Regions from separate parts of the Homo sapiens genome. Here region 2 is linked to region 1. The links come from fine-mapping of genetic effects on gene expression. Tissue or cell type: spinal cord. Region 1 holds a variant in brackets; the other region holds the start of a gene. All regions are shown on one strand. Distances are between the middles of the regions.

The links. PIP is the estimated chance that this variant, and not a neighbour inherited with it, causes the effect.
Region 2: it holds the start of FCRLB, and the variant in region 1 is fine-mapped to the expression of FCRLB in spinal cord (GTEx, PIP above 0.99).

The regions. Positions count from the first base shown.
Region 1 is chr1:161,672,052-161,680,149 of GRCh38, forward strand. FCGR2B (Fc gamma receptor IIb) reads left to right here. Exons shown (of 8, transcript NM_001394477.1): 4 at 924-1,178; 5 at 1,909-2,022; 6 at 3,206-3,262; 7 at 5,277-5,314; 8 at 5,425-6,603. The coding sequence ends at 5,502. Among named protein-coding and RNA genes, the nearest start is that of FCGR2B, 13 kb to the left of the region's middle. The variant A/AC (reference allele first, on the strand shown) is at 4,659.
Region 2 is chr1:161,717,846-161,725,952 of GRCh38, forward strand. It overlaps FCRLB (Fc receptor like B), which reads left to right and starts at 3,699. Exons shown (of 8, transcript NM_001002901.4): 1 at 3,699-3,816; 2 at 3,910-4,005; 3 at 4,808-4,858; 4 at 5,144-5,164; 5 at 5,522-5,776; 6 at 7,976-8,107. The coding sequence starts at 4,828. RefSeq lists a silencer at 1,052-1,101 and enhancers at 4,481-4,580, 4,661-4,760.

The sequences.
Region 1 (8,098 bases):
GAGAATCAGTGTTTCCCTGCCCCCGCCCCGCCCTCCATGCCCCTTCTCCACGTTCTCACTGTGCTAGGTGCTCTTCTCTGTCTTTCTCTTCCACCAGCCTGTGGGAAACCTGAGATGAAAGTCGTGTCTTACCCATCTTTGTATTTCCAGCATCTGAAACTGGGCAGAGCTTAATAAATATTTTGCTGGAGAGGTTGATGATCTTACAAAGCTCCCATTGAAAGGTGGCTCTCTGTAAAGCAAAGTTACAATGAGATTGTGATGAACATTGTCCTTGTGGCTTTTCACTTAGTCCCCTCCCTTCACCTGAAGAGCAAATTTTCCTCAAAAGTACACAGCAAACGAATGACCCACTGGTGACACTGCTGCCTTTAGACCCTGCTGGAAAGAAGCTCCACATTTATTAACATTCCCGAAGTAAATTTATCAGGTAGCATTCATCAGGTAACATTTGTTGCACATTCATGACTTTTCTACTGTCCACAAAGGCATATGTCCTTATCATATGCGGACTCCTCGGTCACACTGGATTCTTCCTTCCCTCCTCGACATGGAAGAGATGGCATCTTAGGGTCTCTTGTGTTCTTCCTGCAGAGGCCTGTCGGGCAGGAAAAGGCTGCAGCTGCCTTCCTGGGAGAAGGAGGAGATGAGTGTATCCTGAACACCTATTATGTGCTAGGGGCTATTGTAGATACATGACACTATCATGCTCATTTTCACGAATGAGGAAACTGAGGCTCAGAAGACTTAAATTATTTGCCCAAGAGTTCATAAATGACAGAGCCAGCATTAGAGTCCAGGACTGTCTGATTTCAGACCTAAGCTGTTCCCTCTGCACATCGTGTCCCACCAGTAAGGAAGATCTGGGTCTCAGAGCTGAGCCAAGACCTCCCGGGTCCTCTGCGGTTTTTTGTGTCTTTCAGAGTGGCTGGTGCTCCAGACCCCTCACCTGGAGTTCCAGGAGGGAGAAACCATCGTGCTGAGGTGCCACAGCTGGAAGGACAAGCCTCTGGTCAAGGTCACATTCTTCCAGAATGGAAAATCCAAGAAATTTTCCCGTTCGGATCCCAACTTCTCCATCCCACAAGCAAACCACAGTCACAGTGGTGATTACCACTGCACAGGAAACATAGGCTACACGCTGTACTCATCCAAGCCTGTGACCATCACTGTCCAAGGTATGCGGAGTCTGCCAAGATGTAAGGAGGGGAGAAGAGGGGATGGACAAGGGCTGAGGTCACATGGGCCTACATGGAGGTCTGAGAAAGGCCACAGCGCAAAATTGGGCACTGGAGCAAAGAGGAGTGGTGTGGAGGCCTGGCTAAGTATTGACCAATGAGCAGGAGTAGGGGCCAGAGCTTGGAGCCCTCAGGTGATAGGTGACCAGGCTGTTGTTCCACTTTGAAATGCAGGCCCCAGACTAAGGACGGCAGCGAAGCAGAGCTCCCTCGTTGGTGCAGAGGTTCCCTAAGCTCCTGGGCATTCCTAAGAACTGAGGTTTGCCTTTATTCTTCTCATGGCTCATGTTACAGCCATTCACTCCAGAAAGCCTGGCACGTCATGGACCGTTCAAGGCTGTGCTCCATAGAGTAATGATGCCTCCAGCTATGCGAGGCTTTGGGCCCACCCTTCCCACTGCCCCTGAGGGCTAAGGGGAGCCCTTCCCTCTGTTCCTGCCTGCTCACAAATGTACCTTTATTAGTTTGGTGGAGAAACCTCGGTAAGCAGGAGGCATAAGTCCAGCCACAGAAACCCTGTGCAGATGAGGCTGGGGATGTAGTGAGTGCTGCAGAAGTGAGTGACTCAGACACAGAAGAGCTTCGGGTGACAAGCACTAGGACATAGCATTGGATGGGGGGGAGGTGGGACAAGGAGAGTACTGCCTGTCCTGATGTCTGTCTTCCCTAGCTCCCAGCTCTTCACCGATGGGGATCATTGTGGCTGTGGTCACTGGGATTGCTGTAGCGGCCATTGTTGCTGCTGTAGTGGCCTTGATCTACTGCAGGAAAAAGCGGATTTCAGGTTTGTAGCTCCTCCCGGTCCCTTTGGTTATCAGTTTCCACTTGGCCCAGGCCCTAACCCCAGACATTGCCAGAATCCCTCTCTTTGGGCTAGATACACATTCAGATCTAGGCCCGTATTGTATTATAGTCATTCATTCGTTTATTAGATCATTCATTTGACAAGACTTGAACAAACTAGCTTATGTGTCAGCCAATGCGTGAGACATGGTGGGTGATGCCAAGAGAAGTCCAGTCCCTGCCCTTGGGGAGTTCTCAGCATTGTGAGGAAGACAGGGTCATTATAATAAGATGGGATAAGAGCAATGATAGGGACATGAAAAGCCTAGGATAGAAGTACAGAGGAGGCTCCATAGCCCAACAAGGGCTGAGGCAGTTGGAGAAGGTCTTGGGGAGAGCAGTGTAGTGTAGTGATGGAGTGCACATAGTGGGGCCAGACTGCCTGAGTTCAAATCTAGTTCTACAGCATACCAACTATATGACCCAAGTGAGTCACTCCACCTCTCTGTGCCTCAGCTGTCTCAAGTGGAAAATGGGGACACTAATAGGACTTACCTCAGAGGGTTGCCATGGGGATGAAAGAGGCTGATGCTCTTACACAGTGCCTGGTAGGCAGTAACAGCACACAAACAGGGCTGTTGCCATTCTGGAGGAGGTGGTGTGTGAGGGCAGCGCTTAGCTAGGGAAGGAGGACCCTCCAGGCACTGGGCCAAGGCAGGGATTGAAGCCGGGTGGGGCTCATATGGGTGTCGAAGGGGGAGTAGAGAGGGTACTGCAAGCCACCAAGAAAGAAAGAATCCTGCTAACACCTCACAAAGCACTTTTCAATTGGTTCATAGCCAACACCTCAGTTACTGATGATAAGTAAATACAGAGAAACAGAGAGAGAGAGACTGAGACACAGGGGTGTTTTTAAAAGGCAGAGCAAGCCTCAGACAGATGCCATGGCGTGGACTTTCTGACACTCCTGGGCATCCCCATGGGTGAGCTGAATTCTGCCTCTGGACCAGCCCTTTTCCAGGCGGGAGCAGCCTCTGAGCAGGGGAGCTGGGGGTGGGAGGACAGGAAACATCTGCCAGAGTGAAGGCCTGAGCTGGTCCCATCCAACCCTGGCCCTGGTCCTTGGTCCTGAGGACTCAGGCCCCACCGCCTAATCCTACTAACCTCCTGTGTGCCCCTCCCAGCTCTCCCAGGATACCCTGAGTGCAGGGAAATGGGAGAGACCCTCCCTGAGAAACCAGGTGAGTACAGGTTGTCTCAGGGATTCAGTGATGGCTCACCAGGGCTGCCGGCTGGACTGGAGCCAGGGAGAAGGGGCTTGTGCAAGTTCAGCTGGGAGCCAGGGAGGGAGCAGCAGTGGGAGGATGGCTGGGGCTCAAATCGCTTGGTCAGCTCTTAGTCTAACTCCTGGGCCTAAAGACGACCTCTCTGGAGATGAGAAGAGAAACACCAGTCCCAGATACAGAAGAGAGGGCTGTGTCCGAATTTCTGGTACCAGGAATCTGGTGATATTTCCAGAGCAAGAAATCAGAGATACTTTGGTCTTCCTGTGGAGCTTTGGCAGAGCTGGCAAAGGATGGGGTTAGGGGCTGTAAGACTGAGGCCAATAGGACGTGGGAGGCAGGAGTCTAAGGGGAAAGGAGGAGGAGGCCTGGAAACCCCTTGATTTGCTGAGGAATCTGCCTCTGTGGAGGGATGGGGTGGAGTGGCCAGGCTCAGCTGTCTGTGGAACACTAGGAGGAGGTTTGGGCTTGAGAAAATTCTGGGGGACTAGGGGCACTAGTGGGCTCTACTCTGTGGGCAAAACTCAGTTCTGATGCCCATGCACTCAAGGTTGACTGAATTTTGGCCTGGTTCTGCCCTCATCACACAGTGGAGCCCTGAGCAAGTCAGTCTCCCTGATGGGGTTCAGTCTCCTCACTGAGGAAATGAGTGGGTGGCCAGGGTGACCTCTCAGGTCTTCTAGATTTGACATTCTGAGAACCAGGGGCCACCCAAGCCCTGGCCCAGGTGGGAGTGTGTAAAGGAACTTCCAGGAGGATGCCAGGCAACTTCCAGACTGTAGTTAAAGTCAGAGCACAAAGGAAACCAGTGCTTTCTCTGGGGGCTTCCATGACAGTAAGAACAGGCAGAAAAAAGAGGCTGTCAAAGACCCCACCTCAGATGGCTGGAGTATGATTCAGAGCAGAGCCAACAGATTTAAGAGCTTGAGCAAAATATCACTTGTTCAGCTGTGCTTGCAGCAAGGTCGCATGTCTGCTGGCCAGGCCCAGTGGTGATAGGGGCCTGTGTTCACACCAGGGCCAAAACAGATCTGGAAAAAACAAAGTCCAAGCAACTGGATTATCCATCTTGTTGTGTGGTTCTGTCTGCACTGGCATAAGCACATTTCACAAGGCACTTTTGCAGCCAGGCATTGGGGCTGCATAAATGGTTTTTTAAAAATCCTTTCCCAAAAGGCAAAGCTGGGTTGCTGGGATTCTTGGGAAATGTAATAGAATGGGAATTCAGAATGCGGTTTACTGCAGAATTTACAGCATGGCAATAAAGGCTCTCTATGTTCAGGGGGTGAGAGAAGAGACTAGATGCATTGTCTCAGATGTCTCCTGACTTCCTGAGAAATGCCACTTTGCAGAT[A/AC]TGGGGCTGCTTTTCACACTGGCTAAGTCAGTTCATGGCAAAATATGAGGGAATTCAGTGTGTTTCAGACACTAACCAAAGTCCATCCTTCCTTTCTCCTTCCGTCCCTCCCTTCCTCCCTTTCTCACTCACTCTCTCTTTCTTTTTAATGCCATGGAGTACCATATTTTTCAAAGTTCCAACAAAGATGCACTACATTTAGACAATGTGGAAATGGCCCTCAGCCTTCTCTCCCTGAAGTCTGTGGCCAGCAAAAATCTGGACTTTACTTCACTCTGATGCTGAACACCCCCCTCCCCCACCTCTTCCCCAATATCTCAGATCCCAAGCCTCCCTGGTTTGCTTCTAGGAAAGCTCAGCAATTCCCTGAAAAGAATGCAGCTCAAGTGACTGCTCCACTTTTTCACCTTGGCCTTTGCGGAAGGCTGTGGCTGGGCTACCCTATGCATCGATCAATGAGGTCATATTTACCCAGTGCTTGGCCTAGAGGCCCAAGACAGGGTCAGCAGTGCTTGCTTTGGCTCTAGTTTGGGCGTTGGTTTTGCAGCCTCAGCATCAGCACAGGCAGGCCCTCTTCTCCAGCAGTGCTCTGGCTGATATTTCTTCTTTTTCCCACAGCCAATCCCACTAATCCTGATGAGGCTGACAAAGTTGGGGTGAGTGATCCCAGCCATCTCCCCCTCCCTTCTCCCCTGTTGCCTTTTCTGTTGCCTTCTTTCCTAGGCCCTCTCTGTGGATCCTTACTGCTGGTTTCTGCCTTCTCTAGGCTGAGAACACAATCACCTATTCACTTCTCATGCACCCGGATGCTCTGGAAGAGCCTGATGACCAGAACCGTATTTAGTCTCCATTGTCTTGCATTGGGATTTGAGAAGAAAATCAGAGAGGGAAGATCTGGTATTTCCTGGCCTAAATTCCCCTTGGGGAGGACAGGGAGATGCTGCAGTTCCAAAAGAGAAGGTTTCTTCCAGAGTCATCTACCTGAGTCCTGAAGCTCCCTGTCCTGAAAGCCACAGACAATATGGTCCCAAATAACCGACTGCACCTTCTGTGCTTCAGCTCTTCTTGACATCAAGGCTCTTCCGTTCCACATCCACACAGCCAATCCAATTAATCAAACCACTGTTATTAACAGATAATAGCAACTTGGGAAATGCTTATGTTACAGGTTACGTGAGAACAATCATGTAAATCTATATGATTTCAGAAATGTTAAAATAGACTAACCTCTACCAGCACATTAAAAGTGATTGTTTCTGGGTGATAAAATTATTGATGATTTTTATTTTCTTTATTTTTCTATAAAGATCATATATTACTTTTATAATAAAACATTATAAAAACAACATTCTGTTTACCTTTTCAAGGCTGTATTGGTTGGAGTGTAGACTGAACTGCCTGGGGTCTGTTTCTCTTCAGTGATGAGACTCTTAGGAAGGCAGGAATGGATAGGATAGGGGGAGGAGAGGAGAGATGGGGATTTAGAATGTAGAGTGAGTGCCCCTTTTCTTAAAACTGAATACAGTCACGCACCACATAATGATGTTTAGTTCAACAACAGACTGCATATATGATGGTGATCCCATAAAATTATAATACCATATTTCTATTGTACCTTTTCTATTCCTATGTTTAGATATATGAGTACTTACCATTGTGTTACAATTGCCTAAAGTATTCAGTACAGTAGCATGCTGTACAGGTTTGTAGCCTAGGGGCAATAGGCTATACGCTACAGCCTAGGTGTGTAGTAGGCCACACCATTTAGGTTTGTATAAGTACCTGCTATGATGTTCACACAACAAAATTGCCTGCATTTCTCAAAATGTATCCCCATATTTCAACAATGCATGACTGTACTCTTCTGCCAATGACCTTGTATTCTTGTTTCCATGTCTTCTTCTCTTTCCTCCTATGGCAAATAAAACACTGTTTTGCAACACAAGTTCACGGGAAGTCAAACTTCAGATGAGCCCTGAGTGGAGATTGCTGACATGTCCTGCTCTGCTATTCTCCCAATGTAGTTACCAGAAGGATGTGACCTTCTCAGAGAAGTCATCTCAGGCAGATTAGAAACATGACTGGCAGTCTCCTTGAGGGTTTGGTGAGTGCCCTTGGAGAGGCTTCATTTTCCTGGGACTCTACGCAGTAACATCGTGCAACATTTGTTGCACTTTTTATGGTAGGATAAAAAGTACTCACTTTTTATGGTCCCACAATCAGATTTCATACACACTTATTGTTTTAGTAATAAGGGATAATAATTAAAATTACTGCGTTATTAAGGACTTACTTTGTGCCATATAGTTTGTGCCAAACTATATGCTTTAGAATTTAGAGAATTTACGATTAGCCTTTTATATTTCCTCTTTTGTGAGTTTCCTGTGTATTTATTCTTTGCCCATTTTTGTAGATACAATGTATGTCCCTTTATTTATAAATTGCATAGTAGTAACTTATTTCCTTTTATTTATATGTAAATTATTTCACTACACTAATAATGTATTCTTTTTATAAAATTAAGATACAGATAGGGAAAACAAAAAAATTAGATCGCCCATAAATCCATAAACCAGAAATAATTAATGCTAACATTTAAGGATATCAATCCATATTCCTGTCTGTGGCAGTGTGTATTTGTGTTTTAAAAATTGGATCTAATCCCAGCTACTCGAGAGGCTGAGACAGGAGAATCGCTTGAACCTGGGAAGCAGAGGTTGCAGCGAGCTGAGATCGCACCATTGCACTTCAGCCTGGGCAACAAGAGTGAAACTCTGTCTCAAAAAAAAAAAAAAATTGGATCATATCATATATTTTACATGTTAATAAATACACTCAGGCAAAAATGTATGCTCATTGTAAGCATGTAAGCCCAAATAATACAGAAAGATAAGGAGTAAAAAGTAGAAGTTCCATTTTGTCATCAGTTCCCTCTATCCTCTTCCCTTTTCTTTCTTTCTTTTTTTTTTTTTTTTAAGAGATAGGGTTGTAGTCCAGGCTGGAGTGCAGTGGCAGGATCACAGCTCATTGCAGCCTCAAACTCCTGGGCTCAAGTGGTCTTCCCACCTCAGCCTTCCTAGTAGCTGGGACTACCACACCTGGCTAATTTTTAAGAATTTTTTGGCCGGGCATGGTGGCTCACGCCTGTAATCCCAGCACTTTGGGAGGCCGAGGCGGGTGGATCATGATGTCAGGAGATCGAGACCATCCTGGCTAACACAGTGGAACCCCGTCTCTACTAAAAAAAATACAAAAAAAAAAAAATTAGCTGGGCTTGGTGGCGGGTGCCTGTATCCCAGCTACTCGGGAGGCTGAGGCAGGAGAAGGCGTGAACCCGGGAGGCAGAGCTTGTAGTGAGCCAAGATTGCACCACTGCACTCCAGCCTGGGCGACAGAGACTCCGTCTCAAAAAAAAAAAAAAAAAAAAGAACTTTTTGGCT
Region 2 (8,107 bases), 46 kb after region 1:
ATAGGAGGAAGTTTAAGGAGGGTGTGTTGGGATAGGCCTCACCCTAGTCCTGTCTTCTTAAAAGTTTTCTTCCCTCTTGGTATCAACCTTCTCCCTTCCCACTGGACAAGAGGAGATGTGGAGAAATACGGAGAGTTACAGCACAGCCTTCCTGCCAGAGTTCCTTCAGACAGGCACTGTTAGTTTTCATTAACTATGTGTGAATTTCTCATAAAGCTAAAGACATTCAATGTAAAGAAATACTCTGCTCTCTATTCTGAAATTGTCCTTTGCACTCCTTTGGTATCGAAATGCCTTCCTTTTGCTGAAAAGTTTACATTAAAGAATATAATTTTATGCCGGGCACGGTGGCTCACGCCTGTAATCCCAACACTTTGGGAGGCTGAGGCGGGCGGATCACCTGAGGTCTGGAGTTCGAGACTAGCCTGACCAACATGGAGAAACCCTGTTTCTACTAAAAATACAAAACTAGCTAGGCATGGTGGCGCATGCCTGTAATCCCAGCTACTCGGGAGGCTGAGGCAGGAGAATTGCTTGAATCCAGGAGGCAGAGGTTGTGGTGAGCTGAGATTGCACCATTGCACTCCAGCCTGGGCAAGAAGAGTGAAACTCCGTCTAAAAAAAAAAAAAAAAGAATAGCAATAGCAATTTTAAAAAATATATTATTATCAGCCCTATCCTGGGTTACAGAAAATAAAATAAGAATAATTTTAAATGTTCTTATTTAGGAAAAGAAAAATTTGTTTGATAAAATTACAAAGGTAAGAAACACTGAATATTGATGACAAGAGGGAATGGGAGCCACGTGAATTGCTGGTGGGTGTATAAGCTTCTGCAGCCACTTTTGAGAGTAATATCACGGTATTCAATCTCTTCCTTTGTTTATGCCACAAATACTTACACAGCACGTGCTATGTGCTGTCACTGCTGTAGGTGATACATCAGCAAAAAAGAAAAAATTCCTGCCTCAATGGAGCTTACATTCTAATGGGGGAACCTACCACAAACAAACAAATACAATTCCGGGTGGTGACAAGTACATTGAAGAGAAATAAAGCAAAATATGGAGCCAGCAAATGACAGTGAGGAGATACTATTTTAGATAGCACGGTTAGCGACCATCTCTCTGAGGAAGTAATATTTGAGTGAAGTGAGGAAGTGAAACTTACAAAAATCTGGGAGGAGAATAAGAATCTTTCAGGCAGAAAGAACAGCAAGTGAGGCCCTGGAGCAAGACTAAGCATGGAATGTTCCAGCAACTGTTCTAAACACAATGTGGCTAGATCAGAGTGAGTGAGGGGGAGAGTTGTAGGAAATGAGGCCAAGGGTCAGAGAAAGGCCCGATTTGTAGGGCCCTGTAGACCATGGGAAGGTGTTTGGAACTTATTCTGAGGGTACCTATGGGGAATTTTGAGAGAAAGTAACACAATATGGTTAACATTTTAAAAGTATCTCTCTAGCGACTCAGTGAATAAATTACTGTACAAAAAGATCAATGTAGCAGGTAGAGTCATCAGGACTTGCTGATGAATTAGATTTGAGTTTTGGAATGAGTGTGCATGTAACTCATGAACATAATTCTGCAGTCTTGCTCTCAGGTGTGTATCCCATAAAGGCGCTTCAGGGCTCTGTAGGGAAGCATCATGTCCTTACCAGTACTAACTTACATGAAACTTCCTATGTGCCAACCCCTGTTCTAAGCCCTTTACATATGTTAATTCATCCAGCCCTCACAATATGTACCAAGAAGTCCATTGTGGAATTGTCTGTGGTAGCTGAGGGTGGGCAGCAACTAGGATGTTAGGGGAATGGACAAGTGCAGTGTAGCAGAAGCATAGAATATTAGGGCAGTCATGGCTGGGCGCAGTGGCTCATGCCTGTAATCCCAGCACTTTGGGAGGCTGAGGTGGGTGGATCACCTGAGGTCAGGAGTCCAAGACCAGCCTGGCCAACATGGTGAAACCCCATCTCTGCTAAAAACACAAAATTAGCCAGGCGTGGTGATGCACGCCTGTAATCCCAGCTACTCAGGAGGCTGAGGCAGGAGAACTGCTTGAACCCAGGAGGTGGAGGTTGCAGTGAGCTGATATCATGCCATTGCATGCCAGACTGGGTAATAAGAGCAAAACTGCGTCTCAAAAAAAAAGAATATTAGGGCAGTCAAAAGCAATAAACATGATGCATGTAGAGCAATCTGAACAAATTTGAAACATCTGGGATTAATTTTTAAAAGTAGAAGTGAATATAATATCTAGAACACAATGCCACTTATGTAAATTAACAACACTAAATATTTCTCAAAGCTAAAAACTGCATGTTATACCTAATGTAAATGACGAGTTAATGGGTGCAGCACACCAACATGGCACATGTATACATATGTAACAAACCTGCACGTTGTGCACATGTACCCTAGAACTTAAAGCACAAAAAAAAATAGCATGTATATGGGAACACACAGTAAACATTTTACAGTGGGTGCTTATGTGGAGGGGAGGAGGACAATAATGTGGGTGAAAGTCAACAAGGTAAGACAATAAGAGGGGGAACTTGCAAAGACCAATAATGACAGCCGGCCATGAGCAGCATCTTGAATCCCTGACAATCAGAGAGATAAGAGAACAGATTTTGGAGACAGACTTCTATTCAAATCCCAGTTTCATCATCTCAGTTTCCTCATATGCAAAATTGGGATATTAATAATTCTTCCTCAAAGGGCCTTACAAGAATTAAGTGCAGTAATATCTGTGAAGCACTTAGCATAGTGCCTGCCACATGCCGAGACACTAAAGTGAGCTGTCATCAGCAACAACAGCATTAGTTCATTACTGTAATTATCACTGAGAACACTTTATCACCAGAATGCTTATCAAATGGTGACATATATTGTCCAGATGTTATGTTGTGATAGGCCTCAAATAATTGCTCAAGTTACAAATGATAATTTCTAAATTTTTCTGCATTGTAAAGGAGTGAAGAATTAGAAATTCTGGGGAAAAGTCCTAGATGGAGTAAAAAGACTCACTTTGGGAAAAACTTAGAGGAGAGCCTAGAATAAATAAATATTTCGTGGGAAATTTTTCAAGTCAAATTCTGAGCACTGTATAATATGAACAGTATGGATGGTTCCAGAGGTTTCTAGGGACGACTATACAGTTCACAAAGTTTTGGTGTACTAAGGTTTCTTCTGAATCGAGTAAAGGGGCTGAGATCTGTGCTCTGGGGGATGAGAAGCCAAAATAGAGCCAGCTTGTGTTGCCTAAGAGGACAGCTGACAACTGCATTGCATTCTTACCATTGAGGTGGTGGCTTGGTGCAGAAGTCAGACCTCTGTGGCAGGCTGTGGATCATGTGGGAAGCCACACACTGGCCCTGAGACGAGGAATTATTAGGATGGAGGGGAAGCACAAGAGTGCTGGTCAGCCCAGGCACTCCTAAAGCAGGCAGGTGATCATCCCTGTTCCCAGTAATTAGTTCTTCTCTGCCTCCCCTACTCTTGGGCACATTGTCAAATATGTCCCTACTTTGTTTGAAATCTACAGGACTCTATCTCTTTTATCAAAACCTGCACTCAAAACATGATCTGAAGTGACCAGCATAATTTAAATGACCAGTCACATTTTCCTAAGAGGCATTTGCATTTTTAAAAGGGGCTAGTCCATTAAGCAAAATATGAGGGGACTCTCAGAGTGGAACTTCAGGCATCAGCAAGAGGGGAAGATACTATCTTCCTGGGAGTTGACAGTACCTGATAATTGATCTCCTTCCCATCAGATTTCCAAGGGATCAAGGTGCCCCGGTTCTAAACAACCACAGGTAAGGACAGGATAGAGTCCAAGGAGACACACTATCAGGCTGGAAAATTCATTAAGTATTTACATGAAAATTCAGGTTCTCCTCATTGCTCAGGTACGGTCACATGGCTCAGAAAGCACAAGAAGTAGAGCCCCGAGGTCAGATCTGAGAGGCTTCTGAGGGGCCGATGCAGTGACTTCTCTGCTGCAGGTCAGGAGTTCTGGAACTGGGGCGTGGCTGGGGAGGGGTTGCAGGGAAGGGTGGGAGGAAGGAAGAAAAGAACAAGTGATTGGAAGTGCCACAGGATGAGCTCATTGGGATGGGTAGGAAAGAAGAGTTTTCTAACTTCTTAAGAATTTAAGAATTTATGAGAACTCAAGATTTCAGGAAGGGAGGAAGAAGAAACACATTGCATTTCTATCCTTGACTGGGGAACTAGATGATAGGGATGTGAAGGGTGGTTGGTGAGTCATGCCTTTTCGTCTACTCATTGTGGCAGGATGTGAGCTCTGGGGGCAGGCAACCGAACACTGACCTCTCTAGGTCTCATGCCAATGTCTGTCATCAGGAGTGAGCAGGAAAAAGGTCCTTAAGGACATGAGGCCGTGTCTTCCTCAGCTGAGCCTTGCAGGGCTGGCTGGAAGGTGGAGAAGGGATGGGATGGGAGTGGGATGTCAATGGGAGCCTGAAGATGGCGGGGTCATCTGCTGGAGCCTGGGGTTCTATGGGGCTCTCTTGTGCTGTGGAGGGCACAAGTTCTGCAGGCCTTCCTTTCAGTAGTCAGGGCTGGCCTGAGCTGTGAGGTGGCTGTAGATGCGGTAGATGAGACAGTGCCTGGCACTTGGGATACCTGATATTCAGCCTGTCTCCCACTGGTTCTGGTCTGCTATCTTCAGGAACTAGGAGTGGGTGGGAGAAGCAGCAATGTCTCCTAGTACTCAGTGGCATCCACTGGCCACATTCTTTCTCTCTGTTCCCCATCTCATGCCAGTGCATCTCCATCCTTCTGCAGCTGCTGCAGTCAGATCCATCATGTGGCCACTGACAGCCCTTCTGCTCCTGGGTGAGTCCACAGTGAGGCAGCAGAAGAGCTTTGGGTGGTGGAGAATAGGGTGGACCAAGGTATGGGGAGAGGAGGGTGGGTATCCAATCCTCAGTTTCCAAGTGGTTCATTATCTTTTTTTGGAGGGGTGAAGAAGAAGGGGCTTTCTCAGAGCTTGGGAAACCAGGGGCAGAAGAAGAAAAACAGGTTTTGGGACCATTCAGCCTTTCTTGTCGTCAAGAGTCTCTCTCCTCTCATCGCCAATATTCTCCTTCTCCTTCCTCTTCCTTCTTTCCTGTTCTGCAGTTCCAAGCAGTGGGCAAGCTGGTGAGTCTTATAAATTTCTCATCCCAATTTTCTACAGCTTCCACTCCAACCCCCTAAGTGACCTTTTCAAGTAGACTCCTCACTTCTTGGCTGCGCTGGGATAGTGTCTCTTCCCACTCTCGTCAACCCCTGGGACTAAATTTGCTTGAAGGCATTTAGAAATGGGTGCTGGCTGATGGACTGGTAGTCTGTAACCCAATGAATGTGATCTCCTCTCCTGCAGGGATGGGTTAGTACATGGGCTGGGGCCTGCGAGCTGGGGTTTCCTAAGATTTCCCAAACTCAGGTCGTTTCTTTGGGCACCTCACCTTGATTCTCTTTGCATGCTGCCCCCTCTCACCCCACTCCCCACCCCAGCTACTCTGGAGAAGCCCATATTGTCTCTACATCCACCTTGGACCACCATCTTCAAAGGGGAGCGGGTAACTTTGAAGTGTGATGGATACCACCCACTGCTCCTGGAGCTCCAGCCCATCAGCACTCTCTGGTATTTGGGCCACCTACTTCTGCCCTCTCACAAGAAGAGCATTGAGGTGCAGACACCAGGGGTGTATCGATGCCAGACACGGGGAGCACCCGTCAGTGACCCCATCCACCTCTCTGTATCCAATGGTGAGTGGACTGAGCACGAGGGGAGGGGGAGCACGTGTCTCCTCTGGCAATACTAGTCCTCTGGTGGGAGGGAACACTGGGCCAATCCCAAGGTGCAGGAAACAAGGGCCACACTGGGGCCTATCTTAAGTCTCTGGAGCAGGTAGGGACCTGCACGGCACTATGCGAGAGATGCAGTAAGGCATGCCTAGCCCCCAAGGTCCCCTTACCCTCCTGCCATAGTGTGAGGCACAGTGTGAACATTTCTGTTTGTTTCTGAGACCAGCTCAGAAGAGCAAAGGCTCCAAGGACCTGGAGTGCTGGACAGAGAACTTTAGGGGGTTGGGGAGGGAGCAGTAAAGGAAATTCACCAAACAGGAAAGGTGAGTTTCCCTGGCAGTCTGAGCATAGATCAAGGATCTACTCTCAGTTGAACAGTGTGATGCTTCTCTGTGCCTCAGTGTCCACATCTGTAAAGAAGGGACAATAATAGTATGTATCTCTTCGGCTGCTCTGAGGATTAAAAGTGAATTATGATTTGCTAAAGAAAAAAAGCAGCAATTGAACTGAGCACTTACTCAAAGTTTTATTGCAGACGTGTATATGTGTACACAGGAGTCAGCTGAGAAACTGATTCTCGAGATGCTTGAAGGGTTTTAAAACAGGATAAGAAAAATAACAATAATTTGTTCAATAAAGTACAGGATTGCTGGGCACGGTGGCTCAAGCCTGTGATCCCAGCACTTTGGGAGGCCAAGGCGGGCAGATCACCTGAGGTCAGGAGTTCAAGACCAGCCTGGCCAACATGGTGAAACACTCTCTACTAAAAAAAAAAAAAAAAAAAAAAATAGCTGGGCATGATAGCGGGTGCCTGTAGTCCCAGCTACTCAGGAGGCTGAGGCATGAGAATTGTTTGAACCTGGGAGGCGGAAGTTGCAGTGAGCTGAGATCGTGCACTCCTAGCCACAATTTGTATTCAGAATTTAAAGCACATCACTCAATGTTCAGATTAGCACTTACACACACTTCATATTCATACTCTGTGGTTTCTTGTTCGGAAATCATTGGTGATAGCAATAATTATACTGAGTACTATAGGAGTAATTACTGCTTACAGATTGGGAGTGCATGTGGATTGTGGCTATTACTTGCAGGATTCTTTCTCAATGTACAACACCTAAAATGGCATCTGCTCTGTGCTAGGGCTATGTAAGCGTGCTATAATGATCACAGGGTAATTATGAGGTGCTGTAGGAGATACCTAAGGCTCTCCTGGGGTGTCAGGGATGTTTTCTGGAGGAGATAAGGTCTAAGCCTAGACATGCAGGACAAGCAGGTGAACTTAAACAGGTGAAAGAGAGTCTTCTTGGCTGAGGAAATAGCAGGTACAAAAGCCTCGGGCTCAGAGCAGGGCCAGTTCTCTCAACAGTTCAGTATGGCTGGAACTTATCCTGTTAGGAGTGGAAGATGAGGAAAGTAGAGAGGAAATGGGGCAGGAATGAATACTGCCATGGTGAGGGAGAGGTAAGCAGGACCCAGTCAGGAGGACTCTGACACCATCCTAAGGAGGTTATAGTTGATTCTCATGGTCAAAACCCTTTGAGGGTGGAGCCAAGTCTCTGGCATCTTTGCTCCCTGGCTAAGTGAAAGACCAGCCATCCCCCTTCCTTCCCACTCACCTACAAATATATCTTGCACTATGAGGCTGCTGGGTGCCAACCACCAGGGAAGGCCTGTCCGCTCAAGAAAGCAGTGGGAGGCCAGGCCCGGTGGCTCACGCCTGTAATCCCACCACTTTGGGAGGCCGAGGTGGGCGTATCACCTGAGGTCAGGAGTTCAAGACCAGCCTGGCCAAGATGGTGAAACCCTGTCTCTACTAAAAAATGCAAAAATTAGCTGGGTGTGATGGCGCCCACCGGTAATCCCAGCTACTCGGGAGGCTGAGGCAGAAGAATCGCTTGAACCCAAGAGGTGGAGGTTGCAGTGAACCGAGTTTGTGCCACTGCACTGCAGCTTGGGCGACAAGAGCAAGACCATGTCTCAAAAAAAGAAAAAGAACAAGAAAAAAAGAAAGAAAAAGAAAAGAAAAGAAAGCGGTGGGAGATGGCGGGGAAGGGAGGGAGAGGAGTTAAGAGGAGAAAGCTGGAAGGCTGTGAGAGTGGGAGATCTCCAGGGCTGGACTTTCTGTGGAGTCAAGCGTGTCTGTGGTGTCTGTCGCAGATTGGCTGATTCTGCAAGTGCCCTATGCGCCAGTGTTCGAGGGTGAGCCGCTAGTCCTGCGCTGCCGCGGCTGGTACGACAAGGTGGTCTACAAGCTTCACTACTACCACGACGGCCAGGCCGTGCGCTACT